Linked DNA regions of Homo sapiens. The protein of the gene in region 1 purifies or fractionates together with the protein of each later gene. This does not show direct contact. Each region holds a gene or a part of one and is shown in the gene's direction. Other genes may lie near its edges.

What was found. The genes of interacting proteins can lie anywhere in the genome.
Region 2: the proteins of CPT1C (region 1) and PPM1F purify together in Homo sapiens (affinity purification with mass spectrometry; one large-scale study listed by BioGRID and IntAct). This does not show direct contact.

The regions. Positions count from the first base shown.
Region 1 is NC_000019.10:49,688,903-49,694,600, forward strand, and holds the start of CPT1C (palmitoyl thioesterase CPT1C), read left to right. Parts: upstream 1-2,213; 5' UTR 2,214-2,438; intron 2,439-2,593; exon of another isoform or gene 2,594-2,716; intron 2,717-2,758; exon of another isoform or gene 2,759-2,868; intron 2,869-2,918; 5' UTR 2,919-2,987; exon of another isoform or gene 2,988-3,051; intron 3,052-3,336; 5' UTR 3,337-3,350; coding exon 3,351-3,491; intron 3,492-5,698. Other genes in the region: ADM5 (putative adrenomedullin-5-like protein precursor), read left to right, coding at 936-1,009, 1,204-1,591. UniProt on the Homo sapiens protein: Palmitoyl thioesterase specifically expressed in the endoplasmic reticulum of neurons. Modulates the trafficking of the glutamate receptor, AMPAR, to plasma membrane through depalmitoylation of GRIA1.
Region 2 is NC_000022.11:21,918,925-21,922,368, reverse strand, and holds the end of PPM1F (protein phosphatase 1F), read left to right. Parts: 3' UTR 1-2,944; downstream 2,945-3,444. UniProt on the Homo sapiens protein: Dephosphorylates and concomitantly deactivates CaM-kinase II activated upon autophosphorylation, and CaM-kinases IV and I activated upon phosphorylation by CaM-kinase kinase. Promotes apoptosis.

The DNA.
Region 1 (5,698 bases):
GGGGGTGTATGTTTGCAAGGATAGAATTTCTCATGGGGGAGTGGCCCTGCTTCCTCCCCTAGAATGGCTTGGGGCTTAGGGCTGGGGACTTGCCCTCCATGGAGGTCAGTGGGAGTTGCAGCTGTAAGGTGGCAGGGCCTACCCATCTTACAGAGGTGAAGACGAGGTCCCTCTGCCTCTGCTGCAGACATGGCGTCTGCACCCACCCTTCCACCCTCAGGGCCTGGCCACGGGGTCCTGGGTCCCCCACAATACTGTGCACTCGACCTGGTTGACCCAGGACACCCTCCTCGTTGAACAGCCCTGGCTACACCTGCTTCAGTGCAACTGGAGCCCTCACCGGCGAGTGCCTGACACCTCGGCCTTTTCTCTTCCGGAGGGGCGCTCCTCAGTGTGTTTGGGGTCTCCCTCGCTCCACGCCCTCCAGGGGGCCGCATGTGCACTTGCCCTGCATTGCCTGGCCCCCGAGGTTCCAGGGTCCCAACTGTCTACTAACCGGCTTCCCGACAGGGTGAGGGTGAGGTCGCATCTACAACCAGAGCCAGCGCTTCCCCGCCGCCACCCCTTTTCTTGGAATCCCGCTGCTTAGCTACCTGCGGGTGTCATTGGCCCCGCCCCATTTCCCCACGCTTTGAAGGGGGCGAGTCTCCACAGACCTCCTAGGGGGATAGACAGCAGCTGGTGTGACCCCACACACCCAGTGAGGTCTCTGGAGCCGCGGTGCGGGAAGCGGGGACCCGGGTTTGAATCCTGCCCCTCTGGTGTGGTGCGGCCTCTTCCCACAGACTTTTGGCCTCAGTGTTCCCCGCCTGGGAAGTGGGGACTGGCCCTGGTACCTGGCTCCAGAGCTGCACCCAGAGGCGATCAGCCCGGTGCGGGAACGGGGCGGGGTGGCCGCAACTACGGGCCACGGATCCTGACCCGCCCTGCCCACGATGACTATCCACATCCTCATCCTGCTGTTGCTCCTCGCCTTCTCCGCCCAAGGGGACCTGGACACTGCAGCCAGGTGAGAAACCCGGGTGGCAGCAGGGACAGGGCGGGAGGGAGACCGTAAAGGGCGAGCGCCCTCTCCCGGCCGCGGAACGGGCAGGTGATCTGTAAGCCTCCCCGCTGGTCTTGGAGTGCTTGGGTGCCCACCTCCATCACGCTCCATCTCTCAATTCGGTTTGAACCCGGTTTTCTCCCACGCTCCCTCTCCAGGCGAGGCCAGCACCAGGTCCCCCAGCACCGCGGGCACGTCTGCTACCTGGGCGTATGCCGGACCCACCGCCTGGCGGAGATCATATACTGGATTCGCTGTCTCCACCAAGGAGCCCTCGGGGAAGGCCAGCCACGAGCCCCAGGACCCCTACAGCTATGGGCGCCGCCGGTGGCGCGAGGCGGAAGCCCGGCTCGGTTCCCAGGATTCCGGCCTGCAGCGAGGGGGCTAGCGCAGTGCCCAGCTCGCTGGGTGACCTCGGGCACGGCTCGTCCCCTCCTCGGCTTCAGTTTGCCTATCTGTATGTTGGAGCTTCTACTCCACATTTCTTCTCCCCTAACTCCAGCCCCTGAAACCGTCTTCCCCAGTCCCTCCCCGGGCTGCGACTAGGTTGGACCTAGAAGCACACGGGACCAGGCTGGGCGAAGAACACTGACGCCCAGAGCCGAATAAACAAGAGTTCCGTGTTTCAGTCTCTGCTTCTCTGTACCTATTTCGACCTCTCAGTCGAGGCTGGGTCTCTAATATACCTTTCTCTATTAGCCATGCTGCTTCTCCCTCACGGAAGTCCCACTGTCTACCTTGAATCCAACCCGCTGTGGCGCCTTTCTTGCCAACTCAATCCATGCACCTTCCGTGGGTGGTTTTGGCGGGCCGTCCTGACCCCCAAACATCCCTCCTCCCTCCCTGGCGTGAAAGGGCTGAGATTTGCTCCGGCACCCTACGCGCCTGACGTTATAATGCACCTGGGGTGGGCTGCGACCTCCCAGCTGAGCCTTGTTCCTCGAAGAGACAGGAGACTAAGAGACAATGAGCTGAGTGAGGAGCCCAGGAACCCGGGTTCCGAACAGCTGCGTAGAATGCGAGCGGCCAAATGGTGGAGAATCTGGCCGGGTAAAAGGAGACGGAGGACTGGGGATCGAACGGATGTAGGGGATTGGACGCCGTGGCTCGAAGGGGGCGGGGATAGAACGCGGGGATTGGAAGGAGGCGGGGATAAAACCCGGGACCTGAATACCCGGCTAGGGACACGAGAGAGAGGAATCGGGGTTTCTGGGTGACGGTGATCTCGGGGTGGGCAGGACTCCAAAGGCCCGTCGACCCGGTGGTGGACTCCTTGCACTGGGATTGGACATATGCAAGCGGGAGATTTGGGGCCGGCGCTCAAAATCGGGGGGCGGGGGTGGACTCGGGTTTGGACCCCAGGATCCGATCAGCGGACCCTTGATTCAACGTGGTAAGTACTGGACCCCAGGGGCTCGGGCTCCGGCGGGGCCTGGAGTCCTGTGTCTAGGGTTGGGCGTGCAAGCCTCTCCATCACTTGTCCTCGACGCTCGCCTCCGCTCACAGCCTCAGCATCCCAGGCTGCGAGGCATGCGCAGTGGGTGCTTCCTTCCCCATTCCCTCCAGCACGGGCGGGGGGAGGGGACGCTGAGCGGATGAATTTATAGACACCATCCCCCTCGCCTTGGCATGAAAAGCGGCAATGGGGTGGACAGCGTCAATGTCTAACAGGTGTTTGTTTCATATGGGTCTAAAACTAATGCTTTTCTCAAGACCCCGCAACTCAGCCTGGACCAGTTTCCCTCCTCCACCCACCCCCGAATCTTGAGAATCCTGTACTGGGGGGAGGGCACTGCCCCCGCACCATGTTCTTGGGAGAGCAGGTAAAGGGGTTAACGCGAGCTATCCCTCTGGCCTCTCTATGCGTTCCCAGAGGTCCCGAATTGACGTCCTTCCCTCAAAACCTCCGGGTCTACAAACCAGGACCCTCAAGACCCTTCAGGTGCTTAGAGAAGGATGAGCTAGGTTATGTAGTCCTGGGTCGGCGCAAAAAGGCAGCTGAAAGCGTGAGATCCCGGGTCTGAGGGAGGAGGGGCTGGGGCCTGGGCTTCTGGGTCTGAGGGAGGAGGGGCTGGGGGCCTGGACTCCTGGATCTGAGAGAGGAGGGGCTGGGGCCTGGGCTTCTGGGTCTGAGGGAGGAGGGGCTGGGGGCCTGGACTCCTGGATCTGAGAGAGGAGGGACTGGGGCCTGGACTCCTGGGTATGAAGGAGGAGGAGGGGCTGGGGGCCTGGACTCCTGAGTCTGAGGGCGGAGGGGCTGGGGTCCTGAAGTATGACTCTGCCCGACTCAGGGCTCCAGCGTGACATGGCTGAAGCGCACCAGGCCGTGGGCTTCCGACCCTCGCTGACCTCGGACGGGGCTGAAGTGGAACTCAGTGCCCCTGTGCTGCAGGAGATCTACCTCTCTGGCCTGCGCTCCTGGAAAAGGCATCTCTCACGTTTCTGGGTGAGGAGCGGTGCTGGTCGGTTTCCTTCCGGGGATCCAGGTTTCTGCTTCCGGGATGTCTGAGGCTCACTTCCGGCATTTCAGCTGGTTCATTTCTGGGAGACTATCACCCCTTTTTCTTAGAATTTTGATGTCTGCTCCCAGGACCCCTTTAGCAATTTCTCCGTGGCTCACTTCTGGGATCCACAGCCCCACCTGCTGAGAACCTCTGCTCACTTCTTTCACCCAAGAGGGGAACTGGGCCCCCCAAAAACTACCCACTTCCAGTTTCTAGAACTCCATATCCTTCCCTTATGGTGAAATTATCATTTCTTCCTTTCATCTCCAGCTTCTTTTGTAGTTGTTGTTTCTGAGACACAGTCTCACTCTGTCGCCCAGGCTGGAGTGCAGTGGCGGGATCTCAGCTCACTGCAACCTCCGCCTCCTGGGTTCAAGCAATTCCCTGCCTCAGCCTCCCAGGTAGCCGGGATTATTGGCGCACGCCACCATGCCTGGCTTATTTATTTATTTATTTATGAGACAGAGTCTCACTCTGTTGCCCAGACTGGAATGCAGTGGGGTGATCTTGGCTCACTGCAACCACCTCCCAGGTTCAAGCGATTCTCCTGCCTCAGCCTCCCGAGTAGCTGGGATTACAGGCATGGATTATACGCCCAGCTAATTTTTGTATTTTTAGTAGAGACGGGGTTTCAACATGTTGGCCAGGCTAATCTCGATCTCCTGACCTCAAGTGATCTGCCTCCCAAAGCGCTTGGGTTACAGGAATGAGCCACCGCGCCCGGCCCAAACTCCTGCTCTGTCCCTGTTCTGGAATGCGCATGCCCAATGTGTAACCAGCACCCATGTCTGTCCCAGGGTTTCTGGTTCTAGAACTCTTGCACTGTCTCCATACAGGGACTCCCTGCTTGTCACATCCTCTGTGTGTGAACTGGGGTCTGGAACACCTGTGGGGTCATGATTGAGTTTGAATCCTGACTCCACCGCTTAGTAGCTGTGTCATCTTGGGCAAGCACCTCTCTTGGAGTCGCAGTTTCCCCTCGTGGAAAACATGGGTGTTGACAGCACCTCCCTCACAGGATAGCCTTGAAGACTAAATTAATTCTTCTATGTCCTGGCCCATGGCGAGGTCTGAGTGTTAGCTTCTGATATTGTTCTTCATTCATTCACCATATATTTATGGGGCATCCGGTAAGGGCCTGGCCCTCTTTAGCATGGAGAACACAGCAGATATCAACAGACAGAATCACGCCTGGGCACTGCGGGCTCACGGCTTTAATCCCAGCACTTTGGGAGGCTGAGGCAGGAGGATCACTTGAGCCCAGGACTTGGACACCAGCCTGGACAACATAGGGAGACCCCATCTCTATTAAAAAAATAAAGACAGGTCGGGCACGGTGGCTCATGCCTGTAATCCCAACACTTTGGGAGGCTGAGACGGACGGATCATGAGGTCAGGAGATCGAGACCCTTCTGGCTAACACGGTGAAACCCCGTTTCTACTAAAAATACACACACACACAAATTAGCCTGGTGTGGTAGTGGGTGCCTGTAGTTCCAATTACTCAGGAGGCTGAGGCAGGAGAATGGCGTGAATCCGGGAGGCGGAGCTTGCAGTGAGCCAAGATGGCGCCACTGCACTCCAGCCTGGGCGACAGAGCGAGACTCCGTCTCAAAAAAAAATAAAATAAAATAAAAAATAAATAAATAAATAAATAAATAAATAAATAAATAATAAAGACAGAATCCTGCTTTTATAGAGTTCTCATTCGAGTTGGGGGAGAAGGCAATAAAACAGATGAGCAAAACAGAAGGCAATAAAACAGATGAGCAAAATATAGGGTATGGTGACATTCTATAGTGTCATCTGATATTGATGGTGACACATGCTATGGTGAATGATAAATCGGGTAGAGAAGAGTGATGTGGGGGTGTTGCAGTTAAATAAGGGGGTGGCAGGCCAGGTGCGGTGGCTCACGCCTGTAATCCCAGCACTTTGGGAAGCCAAGGCAGACAGATCACGAAGTCAGGAGTTCAAGACCAGCCTGGCCAATATAGTGAAACCCCATCTCTACTAAAAATACAAAAATTAGCCGGGTGTGGTGGCAGGCACCTGTAATCACAGCTACCTGGGAGGCTGAGGCAGAAGAATCACTTGAATCCAGGAGGCAGAGATTGCAGTGAGCCAAGATTGCGCCACTGCACTCCAG
Region 2 (3,444 bases), on another chromosome or scaffold:
TTCCAGGTTTTCTCTTTGTTTTATCAGTGCCAAGATGACCTGTTGTGTCATATAATTTAAGCAGAGCTTAGCATTTATTTTATTCTTTAGAAAACTTAAGTATTTACTTTTTTAAAGCTATTTTTCAAGGAACCTTTTTTTGCAGTATTATTGAATTTATTTTCTAAATCAGGATTGAAACAGGAACTTTTCCAGGTGGTGTTAATAAGCCATTCAAGTGCCTTACACAGCTTTGAAGAAACTAGGACTGCAGTGGGCTCGGATAGGCCCATTGAGGTTTTTAGAAAAGCAGGATTTGTTTTGTTAGGGAGGCATGATTTTGGTGAGATCTTTCTGGAAGAGTTTTCCGCCTCTTTGTGATGCTGAACACCCCCAAGGTTCTCCCCTCCCCCCGCTGCCCAGGTGACTGGCAGGAGCTGCGACTGCCACGTAGTGGTGCCTGGGCCCGACAGCGGGGCTCTGGGCATCCCGGGTGACCTTGGCCCATCTGCCTGCATTCCCACCCCCTTGGGCCTGGCTGGATCCCAGGCAGAGGGACCTTGCTGCTGTGTGATTGGAACATTCCCAAATATCTTGTGAATTTGTAATCAAATTGGTCTCATTGGGAAAGACTCTTAATTAAGAGGCTCAGGCAAGCACAGAGGCAGCCCGTGGGTCTCTGTCTCAGTCTGGAGGCAGCAGGGATGCTGCTGGGAGTCCATGGCACAGGCCACAGCCCCTCACCTTGCCGCGGTGGCTGGCAGCACGCCTGCCTTGCTCTGCCCCATGCCCTGAACAGGCATGAGAGCTCCACGTCCCCTAGTGCACCCTGAGAGGGGGCTCACAAGTGACCGATCCTGGGTGCCTCAGGGAGCTCACTGAGGGCGTGCAAAGTTGAAAGTGGCAAGGCTGGGGGAGGGTGTCGGGTAGAGGGAAGAGGGCAGGGGGCTAGGGGAGGACTCAGAGGCCATCTGCAGGGCCAAGCCACAGGAAGGGCTGAGCTGGAGGTGGGCAGGGCTGCTCCAGGCAGGTCAGAGCAGTGCAGGGGGAGGAGAGGAGAAAGGGAGGAAGCTGGGCTGTGTGGTCCCCATGAAGGCATTCAGAGTCCACCTGCAGACAGCGAGAGCCCCAGGAAGGTTTGCACAGCTGTGCCCCAAGCACCTTGGCCTCCTCTCAGCTCGCCGAGGAGGCACGCTAGAGCCGCCTTCCCGGTGGGAGCCCTCTGTCCCACAGGGAGCGGGGAGCCAGCTTTGCTGGGGCCCTACCTGCATGCCCAGCCTTACCCCTCATTCTCACAGCACAGATGAGGTTGAGACCATGCAGTCAATGCATTGCTTAAGGTCTCTTATTTACAAAAAAAAACCTTAAACATAGTCGCTGTCATTCAGACATTCAGAGAATGGTTGGCCACAAACAATGACCAAGTATTGCTTGGCTTAACTTGAAGGCCTGCTGTCTCCTTCTGGGGGTCAGGGACGCAGCTCCACCCTCACCACTAGCCCACCCTGCCCGTGGGCATAACCTTGACGAAGAGAGAGAATGATTGGCATCTGCTTTTCTCTTTTCTTTGCTAATAATTCTGTTCCTGGCTGCCGAGAGTGAAGTTTCACCATGTGGAGGTTTGGCTCCTATCACCTGGTGGTCTGATTCATACCCTAGCCTGAGGCTCCACTGGAAGATCTCGCAGCCTCAGTGTATGGGAAACCCTTTCCCCAGGCTTGTCCCAGCACTGCCGCTCCCCACCCCTGAGCCAGGACCCCAGAGGATGGCCATGCCCCGTGCCTGGCAGAGGTCTGGTGCCAGCACTGGGAGCTGCTCCGCCCTTGCCTTGGGGCCGAGGGAGCCCTCGTCCACCCCTGCACAGCAGCTGGGCACAGAGGAGCGCTCTTCCATCTTGACCAGGACTGCACCAAGAAGCACCAGGTGTCTTCAGCCTCCAACCTCCGGGGCGACCTTCTCTTCCAGCCACAGTCCCATGAGGGCCCCTAGCCAGGGACACTGGTCTGTAAATTGTAATCCTTTCTCCAGCCCAGCTCTCCACTTGTTCCTTGTGTGAGCTGAGCAGGCAGTGCACCTCTGAGTGTCCCTTTTGTAAGGCCCAGGGGTTGCACTGAGTCTGCAGAGGCCGCGACCTCCTAGAACGCTGTGGGTGCAGGTGAGCCGGCGTGTCCTGGGGAGATGCTGCCAGCACACAGGGGCCCTCCTGCTGCCAGCAGGTTGGGGTGGTTAAGTCTTATTAGTGTCTATTCTTAAAATTAAGTGGGCTGGAGAAGAATGGAGCTCCACATGCCAGCACCGTATATGGAATACAAAAGCTGGGGAAGCAGGGCCTGCCTTACAGGTGTGGCTGACTCTGAGCCCAGGCCTGCAGGGGTGGAGGGCAGTCCCTCAGAATCCCAGAGGCAGTCCCAGCCTCAGAACCCAGGATAGGAAATGGGTGTGTTTAGTGGGGAAAGGGACGGGGTGCAGACGGCAGGGCCAGTATGGGGCCCCCTCCCTCTCCTCTCCTCTCCTATGGTGAGCCCAGCGTGGGCACCGGGCCGTCTCAGCCGTGTTCCCAGGGCTGGGAGGACAGCTCTGGCCCTTCTTAGGCCTAGCCTCGTCCCAAGCTAAATGTAAGCCAGTTGGGCTGTGTTAAAGGAAGCAGTGTTTTTGGTTCGATTCTGCCTCTGTAGCTCAAGGGGGGCAGCCCCCAGAGTCCTGTGCATTCTGCCAAGGCTCCATAGCTTTGCCAAATGCACGGAGCTCTGCCATTCCGGTGCAGTGCAGGCCTTGCGAAGGGTTTATCTGCGTTCGTCTCGGTGGGCTTCTCCTGCATGGGAGTTGTGTTCCTGTGCAAGGGGGAGCTTTGCTCCAGGACAGGATGACTGTCTTCCCTATTCTTAGGGACAAGTCCCAAGATGCCAGAAAGGCAGTCTCCCAAGGACCCACCATGCAGAAGTGTCAATAAACCACAAGTTCTGAACTCTGTCGCCCGAGTCCTGCCTTCTTCCTGACTTCTGAGCATCTTGTCCCCTTTGATGTCCAGATGTGTTTGGAAGCTGCTTTAATATTGGGGACCATCTGCAAATCTTGCGAAGCGAGCAGACAAATTCTGGAGAGAGCCCTGGTGGCCTACACCCTCCTGGTCTAGCCAGCAACCTGATTTTCCTCCCTGAGGGGCTCTGAGCCCACCCCCACCAGCAGCAGGAAGGTGACAGGAAAGGGATTAAGCCCCTGGGACCTCACATGACATTGGGGAGCCACAGGAGCATTGAGGACCCCTCATTTTATCCAGGAGCCTGATGTGCCCCAGGAGGTTCCATCCTGAGGATGGAGACCCTCTGACATGACGCTCTTGAGGCCCACCATTTATACCCTCCTGGCACCTCCTGAGGCCAGGTGTGGTGGCGCACACCTGTAATCCCAGCACTTTGGGAGGCTGAGGTGGGAGGATCTCTTGCGCTCAGGAGTTTGAGACCAGCC